Linked DNA regions of Homo sapiens. The main gene of each other region encodes a partner of the protein of the gene in region 2 in a complex. Each region holds a gene or a part of one and is shown on either strand. Other genes may lie near its edges.

Region 1 (8,510 bases), on a different chromosome or scaffold from region 2:
AAAAAAGACTTAAGTGGAAAACCTGATCATAGTCAGAAATGTATGTGGTAAGCATGAAATCAGCATGAGAGAAATTAGTTATGTGAACCAGATTTGTAAAGGCTTCAGGCCAAGATGCCAGTTGCTTTCATCTCATGGCAATGGCTTTGGAATTGTGGACTTTGGATCATCAGTAACTTCAGTGGCACCTTAATGTTTCCTGACAGTCAACCGTATTTCCCTGTTTTTTTTGTTGTTGTTTGTTTTGTTTTTTGAGATGGAGTTTCTCATTGCCCAGGCTGGAGTGCAATGGTGCAATCTTGGCTCACTGCAACCTCTGCCTCCCGAGTTCAAGCGGTTCTCCTGCCTCAGCCTCCCGAGTAGCTGGGATTACAGGCTCCCGCCACCACGCCCGGCTAATTTTTTGTATTTTTAGTAGAGATGGGGTTTCGCCATGTTGGGCAGGCTGATCTCGAACCCCTGACCTCCAGTGATCCTCCCACCTCGGCCTCCCAAAGTGCTGGGATTATAGGTGTGAGCCACCACACCTGTTCTACTTTTTGTATTTTCAGTAGAGACAAGGTTTCACCATGTTGGCCAGGCTGGTCTTCAACTCCTGACCTCAGGTGATCCGCCCACCCTGGCCTCCCAAAGTGCTGGGATTACACTGCGCCAGGCCCCTGGTCTCTTTACTCTGAGTCTTCCAGATGATTGTTTTCCACCTTCTCCTGTAACATCCTTCTGTCCCACCCTCACTCTCAGCTGACAAATTTCTATTATTTGCTGAAAAATGTAGAAGCATTAGAAAACTTCGATCAGCTACCACCATTATGTCTCACTGACCCATATCTGTGGCATATACCTAGCCTTCTTTCCTATTATAATGAATAAGCTTTCCGTATTCCTAGCAAAATCCAAGTCCTCCACTTGAGTCCTAAACCCCATTCCTTCTGAAGCAATTAAGGACATCACTGGTAATTCTCCTGTCTTACATATTTTCTATTTTCCTTGCTACAAGATTTTTTTCCTACTAGTATAGAAATGTGCTTCCAATCTTGCCTTTAAAATACTCTGTTGACCCTACTTCCCACTCCAGTTCTCTCCTTCCCAATTACAGCAGACCTCAAAAGGGTCGGCCGGGTGCGGTGGCTCACGCCTGTAATCCGAGCACTTTGGGAGGCGGAGGAGGGCGGATCACAAGGTCAAGAGATGGAGACCATCCTGGCCAACGTGGTGAAACCCGGTCTCTACTTAAAATACAAAAATTAGCTGGGCATGGTGGCGCATGCCTGTAGTCCCAGCTACTTGGGAGGCTGAGACAGGAGAATCGCTTGAATCGGGGAGGTGGAGGTTGCAATGAGCCGAGATCGTGCCACTGCATTCCAGCCTGGCAACAGAGTGCAACTCTGTCTCCAAAAAAAAAAGGGGGGGGGCCTTGCCATCTTTAAATATTTCCTCCTTAAATCCATTTCAGTAAGTTCTTTTGTTGCCACCACTTCACCAAAGCTGCTCTACTCAAGGTCACCAGTGACCTTCACCATGCTAAAACCAGTGATGAATTTTCAGTCCTCATCTTGAATTGAATTAGCACCGGCACTTGACACTGTTTGTCATTTTTTCTTTTTTTAAACACATTTTTCTTTTAGCTTCTTAGACACTACTAGTTTTTCTTTCTTTTTTTTCTGAGACAGGGTCTTGCTCTGTTGCCCAGGCTGGAGTATAATGGGCAAATCACAGCTCACTGCAGCCTCAACCTCCTTGGCTCAAGCAATCCTTCCACCTCAGCCCCCAAGTAGCTGTAACTACAGGCACATGCCACCAAGCCCACCTAATTGTTGTATTTTTTATAGAAACGGTTTCACCCTGTTGCCCAAGCTGGTCTCAAACTTCTGGGTTCAAACAGTCTGCCCACCTCAACCTCACAAAATACTGGATTACAGGCGTGAGCCACTGCATCCGGCTTACTCCTAGTTTTTCTTCAGCTTTGCTTGTGTCACCGCTTCTCAGGCTTTGCCGATTCATCCTCAGAGGCCCTAAGGCGCCCCAAGACTCAAGCCTGGGATCTTTTCTCCCTTCTAGATACGCTCACTCCCTTGGCGATCTCACCTGGGGTCTCATAGCTTTATATCCCATGTATTTACTGATGGTTCCCAAATTTATACCTCCGCCCACAACCCTTGCCTGAACTACAGGCTGGTTTGTTCAGCCTGCTGTCTCCAGTTGGATGTCTAAATGGCACCTCAAACTCTGCATGTCTAAAACTAAGCTCCTGGTATCTCCTCTCTCTCCTCAGAGTAGTTCCTCTGGCTCTTTTCCCCATCTCAGTTAATAGGGACGCCACTCTTCCTGTTGCACAGGCTAAAAATATCAGCATCATCCTTGACTTTCTTTTTCTCATACCTTACATTCAGTTAGCAGATCCCACTGGCTTCACTTCCAGCATGTAAAGTCCTATCCAGAGTCCAGCCACTTCTCGCCATCTCCACTGCCACCACCTTGATCCAAGCCACCATCATCTCTCACCTGGGCTTTTCCATGATTCTTTAATTGGTCCCCCTGATTCTGCCCTTATCCTCTTTTGTCTCCCCTCAGTGGTGAGCTTTGTAAGGACAAGGATGCTTCTGTTTTCTCATTGCCCAAAACAGTGCCTGGCACTAATAGATTCTGAATAAACATTGATGGAGTAAACCAGGATTATTTTTGCTTTTCTAGGTGAAACTTCGAGAAATGAACTAAGTTTTTACTTGTCCAATTTTCCTTTCTACAGTGGTAGAGCTTTGTGTTCAGTATGGACAGAATGAGGAGGGAATGGTAGGCGAGCTTATAGCCTTCTGCACCAGCACACATAAAGTTGGCCTTACCTCAGAGATCCTGAACTCTTTTGAGCATGAGGTAAGAACAAAATGAAAGCAAACTAATAATGTGATTCTCCATTTCTGCTCTACAGGGGAGGCATTGTGATATATTGAGAGGAGTGTGGGCTTTCGAGTCAGGCCTGGATTCCAGTCCCAGTGTGAGCTTGGACAAACTATGTCCCTGAGCCTCAGTTTCCTTTTCTGACATTGGGTCTAATAATCTGTATTTTTTATGATTGTTATAAGAATTAAATGGGGCTGGGCGCCGTGGCTCATGCCCATAATCCCAGAACTTTGGGAGGCCGAGGCAGGCAGATCACAAGGTCAGGAGTTCAAGACCAGCCTGGCCAACGTGGTGAAACCCTGTCTCTACTAAAAATACAAAAATTAGTTGGGCATGGTGGCAGGCGCCTGTAATCCCAGGTACTCGGAAAGCTGAGGAAGGAGAATCGCTTGAACCGAGGAGGTGGAGGTTGCAGTGAGCTGAGATTGCGCCACTGCACTCCAGCCTGGGACAGAGCGAGACTCCATCTCAAAAAAAAAAGAAATGAGAATGGACATAAAGCACTTAAAACTATGCCCAGCAGGTGATAAGTCTTCACCAAATAATTGGTATTATTAGGATTGTTATATGTTATAGACAGTCATGGGATGTCTTTGTTTTTAGTCTGTGTGTATCTTAATTCTTTGAGGAATGTTAGATCTTTGATTATATTTTGAATACCTTTTATTATCTCAAGGCTTTTGAAAACACCTCTGCTATTACTTGACTATGAAGTACTGTATTCACTATCTTTTCTTTTTCAGTTTCTGAGCAAAAGATTATCGAAAGCCAGGCATAGTACCTGCAAGGACAGTGGCCATGCAGGAGCTAGAGACATTGTTTCCATTCAAGAGCTGTATCCTTTTCTGCTGAAGGTCTTTGCACCAAGCTACATGTTGTATTTTATAATTTGTCTGTAGTCGCATGTGTAATTTAAAAACAAATAATAAGGCCGGGCACGGTGGCTCAGGCCTGTAATCCCAGCACTTTTGGAGGCCGAGGCAAGCAGATCACTTGAGCCCAGGAATTTGTGACCAACCTGGGCAACATGGTGAAACCCTGTCTCTATCAAAAGTACAAATTTTTTTTTTTTTTTGAGTTGGAGTTTCGCTCTTTTTGCCCAGGCTGAAGTGCAATGGTGCAATCTCAGCTCACTGCAACCTCTGCCTCCCAATCTCAAGTGATTCTCCTGCCTCAGCCTCCTGAGTAGCTGGGATTACAGGTGCACACCACCACACCTGGATAATTTTGTATTTTTTTTGGTAGAGACAGGGTTTCACCATGTTGGCCAGCTGGTCTCGAACTCCTGACCTCAGGTGATCCGCCTGCCTAGGCCTCCCAAAGTCCTGGGATTACAGGCGTGAGTCACCGTGCCCGGCCAAAGTACAAATTAAAAAATAATAATAATAAGCTGGGTGTGGTGATGTACGCCTGTAGATCCAGCTAGTTGGTAGGCTGAGGTGAGAAAATCTCTTGAACCTGGGATGTGGAAGTTGCAGTAATCTGAGATCAGGCCACTGCACTCCATCCTGGACGACGAGGAAACCCCATCTCAATAATAATAATAGTAAAAATTGCCTAATATTGAGATTTCTTCTAGCAATCAGCCCTTGCCTTATATGAAAGTTTATTATTATTATTATTATTTTTTTTTTTTGAGATGGAGTCTCGCTGTGTCGCCCATGCTGGAGTGCAGTGGTGTGATCTCAGCTCACTGCAAGCTCCGTCTCCTGGGTTCATGCCATTCTCCTGCCTCAGCCTCCCGAGTAGCTGGGACTACAGGCGCCCGGCTAATTTTTTGTATTTTTTTTAGTAGAGACGGGGTTTCACTGTGTTAGCCAGGATGGTCTCTGTCTCCTGATCTCGTGATCCGCCCATCTCGGCCTCCCAAAGTGCTGGGATTACAGGCATGAGCTACCGTGCCCAGCCATTATTGTTTTTCTTAACCAGTGTTCTTAGAATTGAAGTGGAAGAAGAAGAGGAAATCCTCTTGAACTCTTACACCACACCTTCAAAGGTAAGTAAACAGTGTTTGGACATTGCATTTTACAAGTAACATTTTAAAATAGTTTCACAACATTTGAAGATCTGAGGGAAAAAATCAACCACTCTCATGCATTTCCTACTATATTTCCACTTATACATCTTCCTTTCTGATCATATGTCTAAATGTTTTACATAATGGCAGTCCTTATAAACATATAGTTATCCTGCTTTTCTCAGCACAACATAAAACATTTCTATAAACATAATTTCTCCATAATTGCCCTTTTTGAATAGTTTCATAGTTTTATACTATAATTGAATAATTCAGTTCTGTGTTGGATCCCAGTGTGAAAGGTCAAGTAGGGTAGTGGAAAAGCATTGCCTTCAAAGTCTGAGTCAGAAGACCTAGGTGACCTGGAGTGAGTTGTTTTATCTCTCTGAGACAGTTTCCTTATCCATAATATCAGGATTCATTCATTCAGTTATCCAGCAACAACTATGTGGCCAGGCGCAGTGGCTCATGCCTGTAATCCCAGCACTTTGGGAGGCTGAGGCAGGCGGATCACGAGGTCAGGAGATCGAGACCATCCTGGTTAACATGGTGAAACTCTGTCTCTACCATAAATACAAAAAAAGAAATTAGCCGGGCGTGGTGGTGGGCGCCTGTAGTCCCAGCTACTTGGGAGGCTGAGGCAGGAGAATGGCGGGAACCTGGGAGGCAGAGCTTGCAGTGAGCCGAGATCGCGCTACTGCACTCCAGCCTGGGCGACAGAGCGAGACTCCGTCTCAAAAAAAAAAAAAAAAACAACAACAACAACTATGTACTGCACTAGACATTGAGTAAACAATGGTGAATGAAACAGACATGGATGGGCTCTGCCCTCAAGAAGCTGACAGCCAGTGCACAATATCCCCCATCTTGGAGGGCTTGAAGAGGAAATAAATAGGTAAAGTATCAGGCCCTATGCAATGTATTCAGTAATGGTAACTATTCTTTATACTAACTAAATAAGTTTGTAGACATTCATAAACATGGAGTGAGCCTTAATTATTCAAAGTAAACTACATCATAAGAAAGAGGTAATTTACATTGCCCTATGCAATGTATTCAGTAATAGTAATTATTCTTTTTTGTTGTTGTTGTTGTTGTTTTGAGATGGAGTTTTCCTCTTGTTGCCCAGGCTGGAGTGCAATGGCACGATCTCGGGTCACTGCAACCTCCGCCTCCCGGGTTCAAGCAATTCTGCCTCAGCCTCCTGAGTAGCTGGGATTACAGGCATGCGCCACTACGGCCAGCTAATTTTTGTATTTTTAGTAGAGACGGGGTTTCACCATGTCAGCCAGGCTGGTCTCGTACTCCTCACCTGCGGTGATCCACCTGCCTCGGCCTCCAAAGTGCTGGGATTACAGATGTGAGCCACCGTGCCCAGCCCAGTAATTATTCTTTATACTAACTAAATAAATTTGTAGAAATTCATAAACATGGAGGGAGCCTTAATTATTCAAAGTAAATTACATCATAAGAAAGAAGGTAAGGGCTGGGTGCAGTGGCTCATGCCTGTAATCCCAGCACTCCGGGAGACCAAGGCAGGAGGATCAGTGACCAGAGATCATGCCGCTGCTCTACAGCCTGGATGACAAAGTGAGACCCTGTCTCAGGAAGAAAGAAGGTAAATAGTTTAGATATGCCTGTGGAGAGTAAGAGGGCCAAAAATGTGCCCCATGAAGTTGCTAACACAAAACCAGGTGCATATAATATTAAAAGAAATAATTAGGTGTTTGTTAGAGTTTCTTAAAATTGGAGAGACTATAACTCATTTGATTTTCCTCCTAAAGTGGTTTTCTGAGTCCATATCCCAGTGAAGGACACCTCCGTTCTTCCATTGACTCAGGCCAAGAACCTTGGAGACCTCCTTAAATCCTTTTTCTCTCACACCCCACATCCAACTTAGCTACCAGTCCTGTCATCCCTCTCCAGGATCTGGCCACCTCTCACCATTTCCACTGCTACCACCAGGTCCACAGCATCATTGTCTCCTGAATGATTGGGACAGCCTCCTAACTAGTCCATTGGCTTCTTTCTGCCATATCCACCTCTAACCACCTCTCCACCCAGCAGCCAGAGTGCTCCTTTCCAGCAAAAGGTCAGGTTTTCTTGCTCACATCTCTCCCACTGGCTTTTCGTCTTTCCTCCTGATATGCAAAGTTTGAACCAGCATATGTGAAGTTCTGTAGGAGCTGGCCCCCTCCTCCTTCTGTCCTCTTTCCCTGCTCCCCTTTGCTCTCTGCTTCTGCCGTGCCAAATATGGGTTCATTTCCTATGTCTCCTTGTCAGGGAACAAGCCTGCCTAAAAGAACAAAGCCCTTCTTCTGTTTTATTTTCTTGCTTTATTTTTCTCCTTATTATTCTCTTGCTTTATTACCACCAAACATGTTATATACTTACTTTTTTGTTTTAGTCGGCCTTCCCTCCATTAGATGGAAGCTCCTTGAGAATAGAGACTTTGTTTTTACTTGCTGCTGTTTTCCCAGCACCCTGGCATGTTAATAGTTGTTGAAAGATCTCTGAATAAGGGAGTGTGGTTGGCTCTCTCAATTGCAATACCAATGGGACCACCACGGTTTTATCTGGTTAACAGCTTCACAGATCCAGAATTTTATGTAATTTGTCTGTGTATCCAGAATTGATCATATTCCGGAGTCTGACTCATGGTAACCCAGCTGTCAGTAGACTGATGCGTAAGCCAGGTGCAAATTTGTTTACTTTACTATTGAAGTAGATACCCTTCCAATGACTGAAATCCCATATTTAGGATACCCCATTCCTGCTATGGAAATACTTAGGAGACTAAATTGTGAATCAAAGTTTGTGACTGTGAGGCCGAGTGCAGTGGCTCACACCTGTAATCCCAGCACTTCGGGAGGCTGAGGCAGGTGGATCACTTGAGGTCAGGAGTTCGAGACCAGCGAAACTCCATCTCTACTCAAAAAATTAGCTGGGCATGGTGGTGGTGCCTATAATCCCAGCCACTCAGGAGGCTGAGGCAGGAGAATCGCTTGAACCCGGGAGGTGGAAGTTGCAGTGAGCCAAGATTACACCACTGCCCTCCAGGCTGGATGACAGAACCAGACTCCGTCTGAAAAAAAAAAAAAAAAAAAAGTTTGTGACTGTGAATTCCACGCTAAATGAGTTGGAGTGAAATGTTGAGCAAACAATATGTCCAGGCTAGAGATACGTAAAATGCTTAGAACAGTACTTATCACATGGAAATTGTTCAGTCACTGTTAGGCCATGCATCAATGGCAGCATGATAAAATAGTCAAAGTGTGGCCAGGCATGGTGGCTCACACCTGTAATCCCAGCACTTTGGGAGGCCGAGGTGGGAGGATCACTGGAGGTCAGGGGTTCGAGACCAGTCTGGCCACCATGGTGAAACCCCATCGCTACAAAAGTACAAAAATTAGCTAGGCATGATGGTGGGTGTCTGTAATCCCAGCTACTCGAGAGGCTGAGACAGAAGAAACACTTGAACCCAGGAGGCGGAGGTTGCAGTGAGCTGAGATCATGCCATTGCACTTCAGCCTGGGCGAGAAAGTGAGACTCCATCTCAAAAAAAAAGAAAAGTGTGAATGTTGGCCTTTCCATA
Region 2 (6,231 bases):
AAACATTCAAGTGAGATGACACAAATTCCTGGGGCTGCCAGTATAAAATAAACAGTCCAGTAAGCTGCATCTACCATGCCGTTAAGGACTCTGTCCTTTTAGCTGGTGGGAGCACAGGCTTCATAAAAGAAGGAGAACATGAAGCAGTAGAAAAAGACAGCCTTGCAAAATGCTGCCAGATACAAAACATTCTATCAGAAAATTTCTCATTGAACTACAGTGGCGAGAGTGCTTCTAATATCTCCCTTCTTTTAACACAGCGAAGACCTACATTTCTATGCTCGGCTTTCTAAAGCTAACTTAATTCTGTGGTTAAAACAGCTCCAGGTAGCACTTGTTCTTTTTTTTTTTTTTTAAAGAAGGACTTGTGGTTTTGCAGTCCATGGATAAAGTGGTAGGCAATCATCAGATTCCTGTTGAGAACGACAAATGATGAAGGGAGTAGCAGATGGTTTCAGAAGGCAGAGATTTATAGGGGTAATTTGTAGTGGAATAATACTATTTTCTGAACTAGGTAATAATAATTCACCAAGACAAGTAAAAGTTTAGATAGATAGTATCTCATTTAATTATATGTTGCTAAATATTCCAAGAAATCTTTGACTCAGAAGCCTAAAATGAAAACTCAATTAGTTGACATTTTTAGTTTCTGATGATCTGATCCTGTTTAATCCTTTTCATCATGATGCAGTTTATCACATGATTAAAAATATGGTGCTGCTAACAGTCTAGTTTTCTGAATACAATGTGCTCTTTTCAATTTAGTTACTATCTGATTCAAAAGGATAAAAGTATCCCTCTTTACCAGGAAAAGAAGACAGAAATAGACGAATACTTTTCACATATTCCAAGGTAATAGATGAGGAAGAACTATGTTTCAAACAGGGTTTCCTGAGCACCCCAAATCCTATTGGTGAGTGAGTAGAGCCCCAGGAGGAAATCACTATTTAGATGAGGGTATCCACAATGGCACTGCTCCACAAGGCATACGTGCCAGGGATCATCAACTTCACCTTACTCCCTTGACAAAAGCAGGCAGAGAGAACAGGGCATTGATCTCGTATGTTTGTAATCATCCACAACATTTATTAAATTCTATTGCTGGCACTGAAAGGAGGGGGTTACTATAAGTATCACTATTCATTGCTCAAGTAAATTAATTTAATTTACCAAATCTATTTGGTAATTCACAGCAACTACAGAAGTAATAAGGTATGGAAGTTGGAGGGTAAAATAAACACTTTATTTTATATGTACAACCTTCTTGCTTGGTAATTGTCTATTCTTCATGAACCTGTCCCCAGAGTAATGGCAGCAGATAAGACGTGCCATTATTTTACATAATAAAATATCCCTATTATTCCTTAATAAATATAACTGGCTATACTTTATGTTAATTCCCAAGTCACAGTTCACTCAGGAGGGTCTGGTGCCACTCAAAGGTGCCTGATGTAGAATAACCACAAATAGGTCAACTCTTAAAAAAAGGTAAAGAAAAGTTTAAAATCTTCATTAGTGATCAGCAGTGTGTTGGATACTCCAAATTACCATTTTAAAACTGAAGTAATGTCCAATCTGTTACGACATAAGACTCTCCCAATTATACGCAGACACTGTCATGTACACTTTGATATTTATTAACAAAAATGGTCCAGAAAAGGATTGAGTCAAAATTACAAAGTGATTAAGAGTTAAAACAAAAGTTGTTCTTTATTGTAGTTTCTGGGGGACTTTAACCAGTCCCCAAAGCTGTTTTTATCTCCTAAAATAGGACTTAAATGACATCACTCAAGTGACAGATTTTAATAGAAACTCCTCCTCTTTCCTTCTGTCAAAGCAAAATATAGTGAAAGTCTCTGTTGTTACCTCAAACCTCCTTTCCTAATAAGTGTGCATGCCTGTAGATGGATTGGGATGCAGTGAAGAGAGAAGTTAAACAAAAAGGTTAAAAAAAAAAAAAAGGCCAGGCACAGTGGCTCACAACCGTAATCCCAGCACTCTGGGACGCTGAGGTGTGAGGATCGCTTGAGCCCAGGAGTCTGAGATCTGCCTGGGCAACATAGGGAGACCCCCCACCTCTACAAAAAAAAATTGAAAAAAATTATCTGGATATGAGGTGCACACCTGTGGTCCTAACTACTTGGGAGGCTGAGGTAGGAGGATCACTTGAGCTGGGAAGGTCAAGGCTGCAATCAGCTGTAATTGTGTCACTGCACTAAGCCTTGGTGACAGAGTGAAACCCTTTTTCAACAACAAAGGCAAAATCTTAAAAACAGGAAACAGGCTATTGAGGAAAAAGGGTTATAAAACTGCCTAAGAATCTTCACTAAAGTAATCTTCTAGTCCTTCCATATCCATTTCCAGAGAGGAATTTAAAGAGGCCAGAGCAGATGATGCATCCTTGGTTTTCTGGACACTTGGTTTGGGTTGAGGAGTTTCTGGTTGGATAGGTTCCTTCTTTATGTCTTTACCACCATTTAGAATACGTTGGCTCTCACAAAAGAACTGATTAGGATGATTCAAAGAAAAGCCACAATCATCCACCTGTAAAGGAAGGAAATTTATATTGCATTAATGCATGGCAAAGCTATAAATATATGAGTTTCAAAAGCTGTTTTAGTACTTGTTTAAAACTTAATACCTGAAACATGGATTCTAGCTGTTTGCATTCTAACACTTAATCAGCTACTTACACCATTTCATTCAAAGAGAGCTTCAACCACTACCCAAACCTAAATGGCTCCCACATTTATATTTCTAGTCTGAGCCTCTGTGTTTGGCTCCAGTTCCCTATCTAGTTTCAGTCCCATATCCAACACCTACTCAACATCTAAGATGGCTCAAAGGCAGCTCAAACCCAACAGGAAACGTATCCTTTCCCCTCTCCCCATCCTTTGCTCTCAGTGATTGGTATCACCATTCATCCTTGGGGCATACTAGACACCTTTCTCTCACCTCCCCAGCCCCCAACTCCCACCTGCCACCTCCCATCTACACCAAGCCCTCAATTCTGGCAATACCCAAAACATTACCAATTCTGGTTGACAATTACGTCAAAACAAAAAATTAGAAAACTATAAAAATATGTTTGGAATACAAATGTGTGTGTGTGTGTGTGTGTGTGTGTGTGTGTGTGTGTGTGTGTGTGTGAATGACATTGTATGTTAGTGAGGCACAGGTTAGGGACCTGTGTGATTCATTATTGTATCCCCAGTTCCAAGCAAAAGGCCTACCACATTGTAGGCCAGTAAATATTTGTGGGTTTTTAAGTGATCGTAAAATCATTTTTGATCATTTTGATACTGGTCCCTGATACCACTTGTGTTTTAGAGCTGACTTGTAAGTCTGGCATATGCACTCATTTAGTATGATATAAACTGAAAAAGCAACCTAAGTCAATGTAATTCTTCATTCTAATCTTGGCCTTTCCTTGGTCTTTTTACAGAAAATCTCTTCTTGTAAATTTCACTGTGACTGAATACAAACATGCCTGGTTCATAACTTATGTTATTTTTTCTCAAATACTATCATTAAACTTTAATTTTGAGTATCATTTCAAATTATGCACTCTAGTAATCTCTCCTTATATTCAGTTTCACTTTCCACAGTCTCAAATCCCTGCCTTCTCGCCTTCTGCAGTTGGAGTTGACAACAAAAATATCATTTTGCTTGAGTGAGTGACTGTTGGTTTCTTGGGTGGTATTTTCATTTATCAAGTTTTTGGAAACTGAGAAGTTATTCCATTTCTTTTGTTCATCTGTCTTGTATTAACTAATCCTTTTACGTCTCACTCTTCGTACTGAAGTGACTTGCACACTGTAGGTATCTAATAAATATTTGGTGAAGTGAACCCAGAAATAGTGTATACCAGTGATAATTTTGCATATTTAATTAAAGCCTTACTATATAAAAGACTGTGTTATAAACTATTCACTATTCAGCATACAGGAATACATTTGACTAACTCAAATTTCCAACCCAGTAAGTCATATACTTAAAAACCTCTACCAAGAATGGAGAACTGATGAGGGTCACAGATAAAGGCCTATTACACTCCACAGTAGAGAGAAATTTCGGCTGAGGAGATCAAGGAAGGCTTTGTAAGAGGAGTGCTATTTGAGTTGCGTCTGGAAAGATGGAGAGGGTGAAAAGCTGGGATGATGAGGGGAAAGGCAATATTTGCAGCAGGACCACATGAGCAAGGTAAAGAGGGAATGTCCTGGGAAAGCAAATATTAAATAGTTCACATAGCCTACTATGAAAGGCACATACAAGGAAACAATAAGGAATGAGGTTGGAAAGACAGGCAGGGGCCAGCCTGAGAGAGCCTTGAAAATCAGGGTAAGTGGTCAAGACCTAATTCTCTAGGCAACACAGAGTCACCAAAAACCCTTAAAAAGAGACGTGGTGTGATTAAAGCTATGTATAATCTTTTAGTAGATTAAAATGAATTGGCCAGGGAAAAAGGGGTTGCTGCCATGGTCTAGAATGAACCCTACTGGTGGACGGACCAGCAGACAGAAACATGAGTCTTTTCTGGTAATACTTATCTAAGCACCCTAGGAATCTCTGATTCTCTTTTGCTAGTTGTTAATACATGTTAGGCTAATTTTATAGTAATTCCAGTGTGTAACAGATGGATAGTATACAGACTGATTTTAAGAGTTATAGATCATTAAGAACAAATTTTTATCTTTGCTTCATTTTTTTAACTTAGCTGCTTGATTTCAAAATGTTTCTGAAATGTTTTATAATTTTTATTAACAATGGAATCATTTGTGAACTTTTTTATTACATTCAATTTTCACCCAATTCATTAAAAACTGGGAAATCCAATATAAATTTTGCATTTTGCAATGTGTTTCACAAAAAGTATGTTTATTGTCTAATACATTTTAATCAGAAGGCTTTACAGTTTGTAAAATAGTTTGTAAACAGAGAATCAGAGATTAGAAAGACCTTGGGGAATCCATTAAATTCAATCTCCTCCATGTACAGAGGCCTAAGGAGAATAGATGGTTTATTCAAGGTCATAGAATTAGTAACTGGTTTTGTCTGAATTAAAATTCAGGCCTTCTGACTAGATCATTAGTTGCTCTGAAATCTGTTTTAAGAGATTGTATGCAAAATCATACTGATAATGATATCTCCATTATAAATTTTATTTCTAGAGATAAACTTGGCTACAAAGATTAGAAAAACATAGTTGTACTATTTCATGCAAAAATAACCTAGTATCTTATGCTATAATAATATCTTGGCATTTTCTATACCTCGCTTCAAGTTGTCAGTTAGCAATACATTTATTAGACTTCAATGTGCACAAAATAGGGTAATCTTTTTAAAGTCTGATTTTCTCCATCTATGAAATGGAGATAACAGTGTTAGGTCATAGGGTTGCCATGGGAAAAGTAAATAAAAATGAATGTTAAAAAAAATTGTTCTATGAAATCTAAATAAAATGTTTTTAAAGAGTCAAGAAAAGCAAGTCACTTAAAAAAAAGGTGAAAGTCACAGAAGGAGAGGGAGAAAGATCCTATTGCTTTGCATATATCAAGTTCCTTTTCTACTTTAAGGAATCCAAACTGGAAATTGCTGATGCTGTATTATGGGTATAGTTTATAAAAGAAAGATAAAATCAAATTCCAAACACTAAACGATACTCAAAAGACCCTGCCCTAACTAATAAATGGCATTTAAATGACTTAACTTTAAGATATAATATTTAAGGGGCTGGGCGTGGTGGCTCACGCCTGTAATCCCAGCACTTTGGGAGGCCGAGACGGGCGGATCACGAGGTCAGGAGATTGAGACCATCCTGGCTAACACGGTGAAACCCCGTCTCTACTAAAAATACAAAAATTAGCCGGGCATGGTGGCGCGTGCCTGTAGTCCCAGCTACACGGGAGGCTGAGGCAGGAGAATGGCGTGAACCCGGGAGGCGGAGCTTGCAGTGAGTCGAGATCGCGCCACTGCACTCCAGCCTGGGCGACAGAGCGAAACTCCGTCTCAAAAAAAAAAAAAAAAAAAAAAAAAGATATAATATTTAAGGTATGTGCATATCGTTAATGAATCCTCATTTTAATTAATATTTTTTAAATTATACTTAAAGTTCTGGAGTCCATGTGCAGAACGTGCAGGTTACATAGGCATACACATGCCATGGTGGTTTGCTGCGCCCACCAACCTGTTATCTACATTAGGGACTTCTAATGCCATCCCTCCCCTAGC

Evidence for each region. The genes of interacting proteins can lie anywhere in the genome.
Region 1: PRIM2 (region 2) and POLA2 share a complex: the UniProt entries of both Homo sapiens proteins name them as parts of the alpha DNA polymerase complex.

Annotation. Positions count from the first base shown.
Region 1 is NC_000011.10:65,263,836-65,272,345, forward strand, and holds part of POLA2 (DNA polymerase alpha subunit B), read left to right. Parts: intron 1-2,746; coding exon 2,747-2,871; intron 2,872-3,641; coding exon 3,642-3,733; intron 3,734-4,836; coding exon 4,837-4,894; intron 4,895-8,510. UniProt on the Homo sapiens protein: Accessory subunit of the DNA polymerase alpha complex (also known as the alpha DNA polymerase-primase complex) which plays an essential role in the initiation of DNA synthesis.
Region 2 is NC_000006.12:57,642,241-57,648,471, reverse strand, and holds the end of PRIM2 (DNA primase large subunit), read right to left. Parts: intron 2,545-6,231; coding exon 2,314-2,544; 3' UTR 1,622-2,313; downstream 1-1,621. UniProt on the Homo sapiens protein: Regulatory subunit of the DNA primase complex and component of the DNA polymerase alpha complex (also known as the alpha DNA polymerase-primase complex) which play an essential role in the initiation of DNA synthesis.